Linked DNA regions of Homo sapiens. The protein of the gene in region 1 purifies or fractionates together with the protein of each later gene. This does not show direct contact. Each region holds a gene or a part of one and is shown in the gene's direction. Other genes may lie near its edges.

Region 1 (3,817 bases):
GACACAGACTCATTCACTTGACAAGTGTTTATTGGGTGCCTGGGTCCCTGTAAGACTTCCTTCTTCTAAGCCCAAGTCTCCAGGGTTCCTAGATCCTGCGAAGATTTCAAGGAAATATCTGAAGTTATAAGATGTGGCTAAGGACGCAGTTTCTGGCTTAACACAAGAAAATTAAATCTACCTTTCTTCTGCTCCTTCCTCAAGCTTTCTAGTCACCTAATATGACTTATGAAAAGAGAGTATTAACTAGAAGGAACCAGACAGAGCCTCTGTCACCCAGGTGGGAGTGCAGTGATGCAATCATAGCTCACTGCAGCCTGGACCTCCTAGGCTCAAGCGATCCACCTCAGCCTCCTGAGTAGGTGGAACCACAGGTGTGTGCCACCCTACCCAGCTAATTTTTATATTTTTTGTAGAGATGAAGTCTTGCTGTATTGCCCAGGCTGTTCTTGAACTCCTGGGCTCAAGCAGTCTTCCCACCTCAGCCTCCCAAAGCACTGGGATTACAGGCATGAGCCACTGCACTTGGCTAATTTTTTAAATTTTTTGTAGAGACAGGGTCTTGCTATGTTGCACAGGCTGGTCTCGAACTCTTGGCCTCAAGCAATCCTCCTGCCTCGGCCTCCCAAAATGCTGGTATTATAGGTGTGAGCCACTGCACCCATCCAAGAGCTTTTTTTCTTCTAGATTTCAAGAGGCCTCTTTTCCTGTCCTAAAAGATGGAGCTAAATTCTCTAACGTGCCCCATGCAGTGCCCACAAAATCTTCCTTTTCTTTCCTTTTCTGGGCGTCCTTGGGGCCCTGTACTTGCTGTCACCTGTGTCTGGGGTTCTCTTCTGCAGGTCTTTCCAGGCCTTCCCTGCATCCTCTGCCTTCCCTCCCCCGGCCACTCCCCGTCTTAGCAGGAGCCACTGCCTGGACTTCCCTCGCGTACCTGCTGCTGGTTTCATGTCACCTTCCCTGCCTGAATGTAAGCTCCCTAAGGACAAGGACTCCATCTTGTGTCCTGAATCCTGCCAGACTTCAGCCTTTTATCAGTGGCTGGTGTGGAGCGGTCTTTGGTCGCTTGCTGGAGGGTCCATCAAGGCTGTGTGAGGGACCTTCTTGTGGGTCTAGCAAGATGTGGCTCTGGGCCGTGCTGGTGGGTGGTGGGGTGGCCTAACGCACTCCTGGCCTCTCTTCCTCCCAACCCCCAGGCAATAGCGCCTTTAAGTCACCAGATGCGTTCAAGGTGTCCCTCCCACTCCGCACAAACTACCTATACGGCAAGATCAAGAAGACGCTGCCTGAGCTGTACGCCTTCACCATCTGCCTGTGGCTGCGGTCCAGCGCCTCACCAGGCATTGGCACCCCCTTCTCCTATGCGGTGCCAGGGCAGGCCAACGAGATCGTGCTGATCGAGTGGGGCAACAACCCCATCGAGCTGCTCATCAACGACAAGGTGAGGCCCGCCTGCACCGCCACCCTCCCCAGAACCCATCATGTGGTGGAGGGAGCCACAGCCCCCACCCCAGCCGTCCTCGCCCTCCTCGGGCCACACAGCAGTGTCCCAGACATGGGACTGCGGGGCTGTCCTCCTCGAGGTGGGGATAGCTTTGCACACGCCGGGCGGCTCACAGGGGCGGGGTGGGGAGGGGCCGAGCTGTGAGTCCAACCACCAAGCTGCAGAAGGTCCAGGCACCTAGGCCATGGAAGGGCAGAAGGAACAGATCTCCGTGTGCAGCCTGGATTGAGAGAGGACCTCAGGCCGGTCAGTGAGGGCTGTTCCCCAGGGCCACACTGATTAAGGGGGTGTGTGTGTCTCAGTGTAAGAGACTCCCCACAAGCATATTTTGGTGGGGGTCAGGTTTCTAGAGATATAATTTACATACAGCAAAGTGTACCCATTTTAATGTACAATTCAGGAAGTTTTAACAAATGCACACAGTTGTGTAACCACCACCACGATGAAAAAATATAAAACAGTTCCATCACCCCCCAAAACCCCCTCATACCCCTTCATAGTTAACTCTGATCCCAGCCCCAGCCCATGGCCATTGCTGACCTGTTATGTATACCCATGGTCTTGCCTTTTCCAGAGCAAATGCCCCTTCTTAATAGACTGCTTGGTTTTGGCATTCAGGAGTGGTCTTCTCAAGGGCTGGGCATGGTAGCTCATGCCTGTAATCCCAGTGTGTTGGGAGGCCGAGGCAGGAGGATTGCTTGAGCCCAGGAGTTCAAGAGCAGCCTGGGCAACATAGCAAGACCCCTTCTCTACAAAAAATTAGAAAGTTAGCTAGGTGTGGTGGTGTGCACCTGTAGTTCCAGCTACTCGGGAGGCTGAGGCAGGAAGATGGCTTTGAGCCCAGGATGTCGAGGCTGCAATGAACTATGATCGCACCACTGTACTCCAGCCTGGGTGACAGAGCGATACCCTGTCTCAAAAAAAAAAAAAAAAAAAAAAAGGCCACTTTGGGCCTCCTGGGGACCTCTCACAGCCCTGCTTCCAAACTTTCATTCTAATGGCAGACTCCATATAACAAAAAGAACATTCTCAGAACCTGTCCGGATTTGGGCATTTGAGTGGCTACGCAAACTCCCTGCCACCCGGGCCACCCCTGGTGGAGGCGGGGGCAGTTCAGCCCCTCACTCTGTTTGTCCTCACTGAACTGCCCTGGGTGGAGTCTGTCGAGGTTTAAAAAACGCTGTGGCATCAGCCTGCTGGGCTCCTCCTAGATAGACCCCCTTGCCTGAGCCAGGGGTTAAATAATTGTTCTAAATAACACCCTATGACACAGTGGGGCTAAGAGCCTTGTTGTCCTCTGGGTTTGGACGGCTTGTAAACATCGAATTCCTGGGAGGGAGGCTTCGGGTTGCTAGGAGACCAGCAGCAACAACGCGGTGGTTCATAGGCGAGCCTGCATAGAAAGTGCTTGCAGGACCGCCAGGGACCCGGCCAGTGGCAGCGTCCTCCCCCCAGTTCCTCACGCTGTCCGTGAGTTCCCTGCTCACACAGATACTCACACACGTGCCGCTGCGCAGGGAGGACGGGGCACACCCGCAGCACACAGATCCCTGCGTGCCATCATGGAGGTTTGGGACTTGGCATGAGGAATGAGGATCTCTCGTCTGTTTTCCAAGGAGACTGGCCCCATGGAACGCTGACTTCCCGAGTTTCTCTGGCATGGAGAGCTCAGGGCCAGCGTGGGGGTGTTGACCCTCACATCTGTTCGGTCCTCAGCCACGCCAGGCACCAAGGGTGTCCCATTAATGTGAGGGCTGCTCTGGGGTCAGGGTTTCCACCAAGGCTGCCCCCTTGCATGTTCTCCACGCATGACCCCGGTGACAGGAGGAGCAGTGTGGCCCAGGGGGACTGTGGGGTGTCCTTCCTGCTTCCTGCCCTGGGGGACCCTGAGGGCGTGGGCCCAGCAGGTCCTTACCTGCACATTGCTGCTCACAGGTTGCGCAGCTGCCCCTGTTTGTCAGTGACGGCAAGTGGCACCACATCTGTGTCACCTGGACGACACGGGATGGCATGTGGGAGGCATTCCAGGACGGAGAGAAGCTGGGCACTGGGGAGAACCTGGCCCCCTGGCACCCCATCAAGCCCGGGGGCGTGCTGATCCTTGGACAAGAGCAGGTGGGTGCAGGGCAGGTGCAGGTGGGCACAGGGTGGGTGCAGGATGGGCACAGGGTGGCCGTGCGCCCTTTCAGGGATGGTGCGAGGAGGGGCCAACTGAGCAGCACGAGGCCAGGCCTGCAGCTGTTCCTGCTCCCGGCCCCAGCTGTTGGCCCCTCAGACCTGGCCACAGTGTCCTGACAGCCAGGTCGGGGGAGT
Region 2 (3,817 bases), on another chromosome or scaffold:
AGTACATGGACCCGGGAATCCTCAGTGCCTTAATAGATCCTAAGTACTTACTTATTCTTTCCCATAGAGGCTTACACATGGTAGGAGAAGAGATTTCTGGAATACCTTTCCTCCCCAAAGAAAGCTGGTTTCTTTTGTTTGTTAAGTGAGAGAGTGGTACCACAGGGTTTCCAAGATTTCCAAGGCTGATGAAAATTCTTAACTTCTGTTGTCTGCTTGTCTTGCTTTCTTGAATTTATTTTTTGTATGTTATGTATTTATTATTTAGAGAGAGGATCTCCCTGTGTCACCCAGGCTGGAGTGCAGTGTTACAGTCATAACTCACGGCAGTGTCAACCTCCTGGGCTCAAGTGATTCTCCTTCCTTGGCCTCCTGAGTAGCTAGGAACACAGGCATGCTCCACTATGCCTGGCTATTTTTTTCCCCCTGGAGACAGGATCTTGTTGTGTTGCACAGGCTGGTTTCAAACTCTTGGCCTCAAAGCTAGCCTCCCACCTTGGTCTCTGAAAGTGCTAGAATTAAATAGAATTAAAGGTGTGACCAACTGCACCCAGCTTATTTATGATGATGATGATGATGATGATGATGATGATGATGATGATGTTTGGGAGATGGAGTCTCTGTCGCCCAGGCTGGAGTGCAATGGCACGATCTCAGCTGACTGCAACCTCTGGCTCACTGCAACCTCCACCTCCTGGGTTCAACTGATTTTTGTGCCTTAGCCTCCTGAGTAGCTGGGATTACAGGCACCCGCCATCATGCCTGGCTAATTTTTCTATTTTTGTAGAGACGGGGTTTCACCATGTTAGCCAGGCTGGTCTCAAACTCCTGACCTCAGGTGATCCGCCCACTTCGGCCTCCCAAAGTGCTGGGATTACAGGCATGAGCTGCTGCACCCAGCTCTATTTTTTGTTTTGTGGTAGGAAATTATAAAACATGGAATTATGCATTTGTCAGGCTTTAACTACTTTTGAAAAAATGTTGGAAAATATTTCTGTATGAAACGTAAAACAACTTTTAATTTTTTTTTAGAAGTCAATGAAAGGATTCTATTTTGCAAAGCTGTATTATGAAGCTAAAGAATATGATCTTGCTAAAAAGTAAGTACAAACCGTAACATGTATTCTTTTTTTTAAAATCAATGCCTTTTCTCATTTTCTTCTTTGAAATAGGTAAAAATATGTCCTTAGTAGTTCTTCCTAAGTGTATTCTGGAATAAGGGATTTATCACTCAGACTGATGCTAAGGACCAGCCTAGATTCCATTGAGATTGAAACTGTAATTAGTGTTTTCTGCATGCTGCTGCTTTATACCAAGGGCAAGAAATTGTTTGGCTTAAAACACTTTTTCTAAAAATTGTCTTCTGTTGGAGTAAAAGAGGACCATGCCTATATCTTAATTTGTTTTTGGTTAGATATCTGATACCTTAATCAGATGGAAAATAGCAATGAATAAAAAATTAAACTGTAATTGTAAGGCAGGAGAATAGCTTGTATAAAAGATCTTTAACTGACACAATATGTGATGCTCTAAGGCTCTATCCTAGGGATGAGAAGCTTGGTGATTCTGATTTCCTGGCTGGGAGTGGATTAAAGCAGGAAATTAAGAGGGAGGCAGGCTTTTTTTTTTTTTTTAGGCAGTATCTGTCTCTCTTGCTCCGGCTGGAGTGCAGCAGCTGGCTCCATCTTTGCTCACTGTAACCTCTGCCTTCTGGGCTCAAGCGATCTTCCCACCTCAGCGCCCCAAGTAGCTGGGGATACAGATGCGCACCACCACGTGGACCTGGCTAAGGTTTGCATTTTTTGGTAGAGACAGGTGTCACTATGTTGCCCAGGCTAGTCTTGAACTTCTGAGCACAGCAGTCTGCCTGCCTCGGCCTCCCATAGTGTTGGGACTACAGGTGTGTGTTACTGCTCCCAGCTGGGAGGCAGGCTTTTAAAGGCATCCAAAGGAAGATGGAAATGCTGGTAAGAAAGGAAAATGGTGGTACATAAATTATGTAACTAGCAGCACTGTGACTGTTAACTCTTGTACCTTTTTACTGTGAGACTTTAATCCCTTAGTTTAGGTCTGGCCTAATTTCTCTGATCGTAATACTGTCAAGGAACCTAGAGGATATTTACTTATTTTAGTTGTTACTTGATTTGAGAAATGGAAATTTCCTGTATTTGGTACTGTAATTAGTAATTTTTCTTCTGTTCGATTTTAGCTGGATATAGTACTGTTAGAAATTACTTTCTTGCTTAAAGGGTAAATGTATTTCCCTTTGTTGTTTGGGAAATTGTTGCTGTTTAGTATTTTGCATTATGATAACTTTAAAAATGTTTATTATAATCACTTCTAATTTATTGGCAAAACTGTTAGTGCTTTATTAAAATGTGATCAGGAAGAAAAAGCAATCTATATGTTCATTTCTTATGTGTGGTTAACACTGGAGAAAAATTTGGTAAATGTGACATTTAATGGTAAAATGAGTATGTGGTCAACTCTATGTACGTGTTTTTAAGTATTACCCATTTCTTTCTATGAATACTTTTGAGTTATCTGCATAAATAGTGGTAGTTTTGAGTAACAATATAAACGAGTTTAGTGGTTGCTTTGGTTTAAGATGTATTCTTCGGTTAGCATTTAAAAGTACAGTTCTAAGTTTAATTTACTTTTGTATTACTTTTAAAAAACAGATACATATGTACTTACATTAATGTGCAAGAGAGGGATCCCAAAGCTCACAGATTTCTGGGTCTTCTTTATGAATTGGAAGAAAACACAGAGAAAGCCGTTGAATGTTACAGGGTAAGTTATAAGATTCAAATATAGCCTTTGCGTAGCCAAACACATGATGCCCAGAGAAATTTATATAAGTAAGTCAAATATATTTTATGAATATCATAAAACAGGCATTGGTATCATAGTACAATTATGTGATACAGCTTGGAACAGATTTAGAATTGTTTAACACCTATAAATTGTAAGTCTAACACGGTCAGAAATGGTGTTCTTTTGTGTTTTTTGCATTCAAATGACACAAATATAATTTTTATTTGATTCATTTCTAGAAAATTCCAAGACACTTTTATTTTAACACCTTTAAAGTAACATGTTTTCTCTAGAAGTAGAATTTTTTAAGGGTTGGAGTGATAATTTTTAACCTTTATGTATAAGTATATATACTCCTACATACATACATACAATTTATTTACTAATCTTTAATTTCTTTTCTGATATTAGCGTTCAGTGGAATTAAACCCAACACAAAAAGATCTTGTGTTGAAGATTGCAGAATTGCTTTGTAAAAATGATGTTACTGATGGAAGAGCAAAATACTGGGTCGAAAGAGCAGCAAAACTTTTCCCAGGAAGTCCTGCAATTTATAAACTAAAGGTAAACAAACAAAACATAAAGGGAGAAAACTTAAGACATAACCATTTCTAATATTTGGAGTTTAAATTACTTTTCAATAGCAAACCTTAAGCTCAGGTGTTTGTGTTTCCTTTAACATTTTTCTTTTAAAAAGTGTATTAAAACCTTTCTGAGCATCTACTGTCTTATTAGGCATTGTTATACTTTATAAGTGACATCTCATTTACCCTTCTGGAATAATTAATATTTTAGGGATTTTACAGTTTAGTAGCTGTAAACTAAGTAGAGCTAAGATTTACATTAAGTTCTGTCTGATATACAATTTTTGCTTCATTAAGTGAAAATTACCTACAGGATGACAATTTAGGGATATTTTAAAGAAGAGTTTTCTGATAACTATTGTCTGAAAGTAGAAGGGATTGTATTTTGAGATAGTAAGGTTTTCAAGCAAAAGATA

The links.
Region 2: the proteins of NPTX2 (region 1) and RGPD5 purify together in Homo sapiens (affinity purification with mass spectrometry, with the first as the bait; one large-scale study listed by BioGRID). This does not show direct contact.

The regions. Positions count from the first base shown.
Region 1 is NC_000007.14:98,623,726-98,627,542, forward strand, and holds part of NPTX2 (neuronal pentraxin-2 precursor), read left to right. Parts: intron 1-1,196; coding exon 1,197-1,441; intron 1,442-3,439; coding exon 3,440-3,619; intron 3,620-3,817. UniProt on the Homo sapiens protein: Likely to play role in the modification of cellular properties that underlie long-term plasticity. Binds to agar matrix in a calcium-dependent manner.
Region 2 is NC_000002.12:109,800,751-109,804,567, forward strand, and holds part of RGPD5 (RANBP2-like and GRIP domain-containing protein 5/6), read left to right. Parts: intron 1-1,032; coding exon 1,033-1,100; intron 1,101-2,681; coding exon 2,682-2,793; intron 2,794-3,228; coding exon 3,229-3,381; intron 3,382-3,817.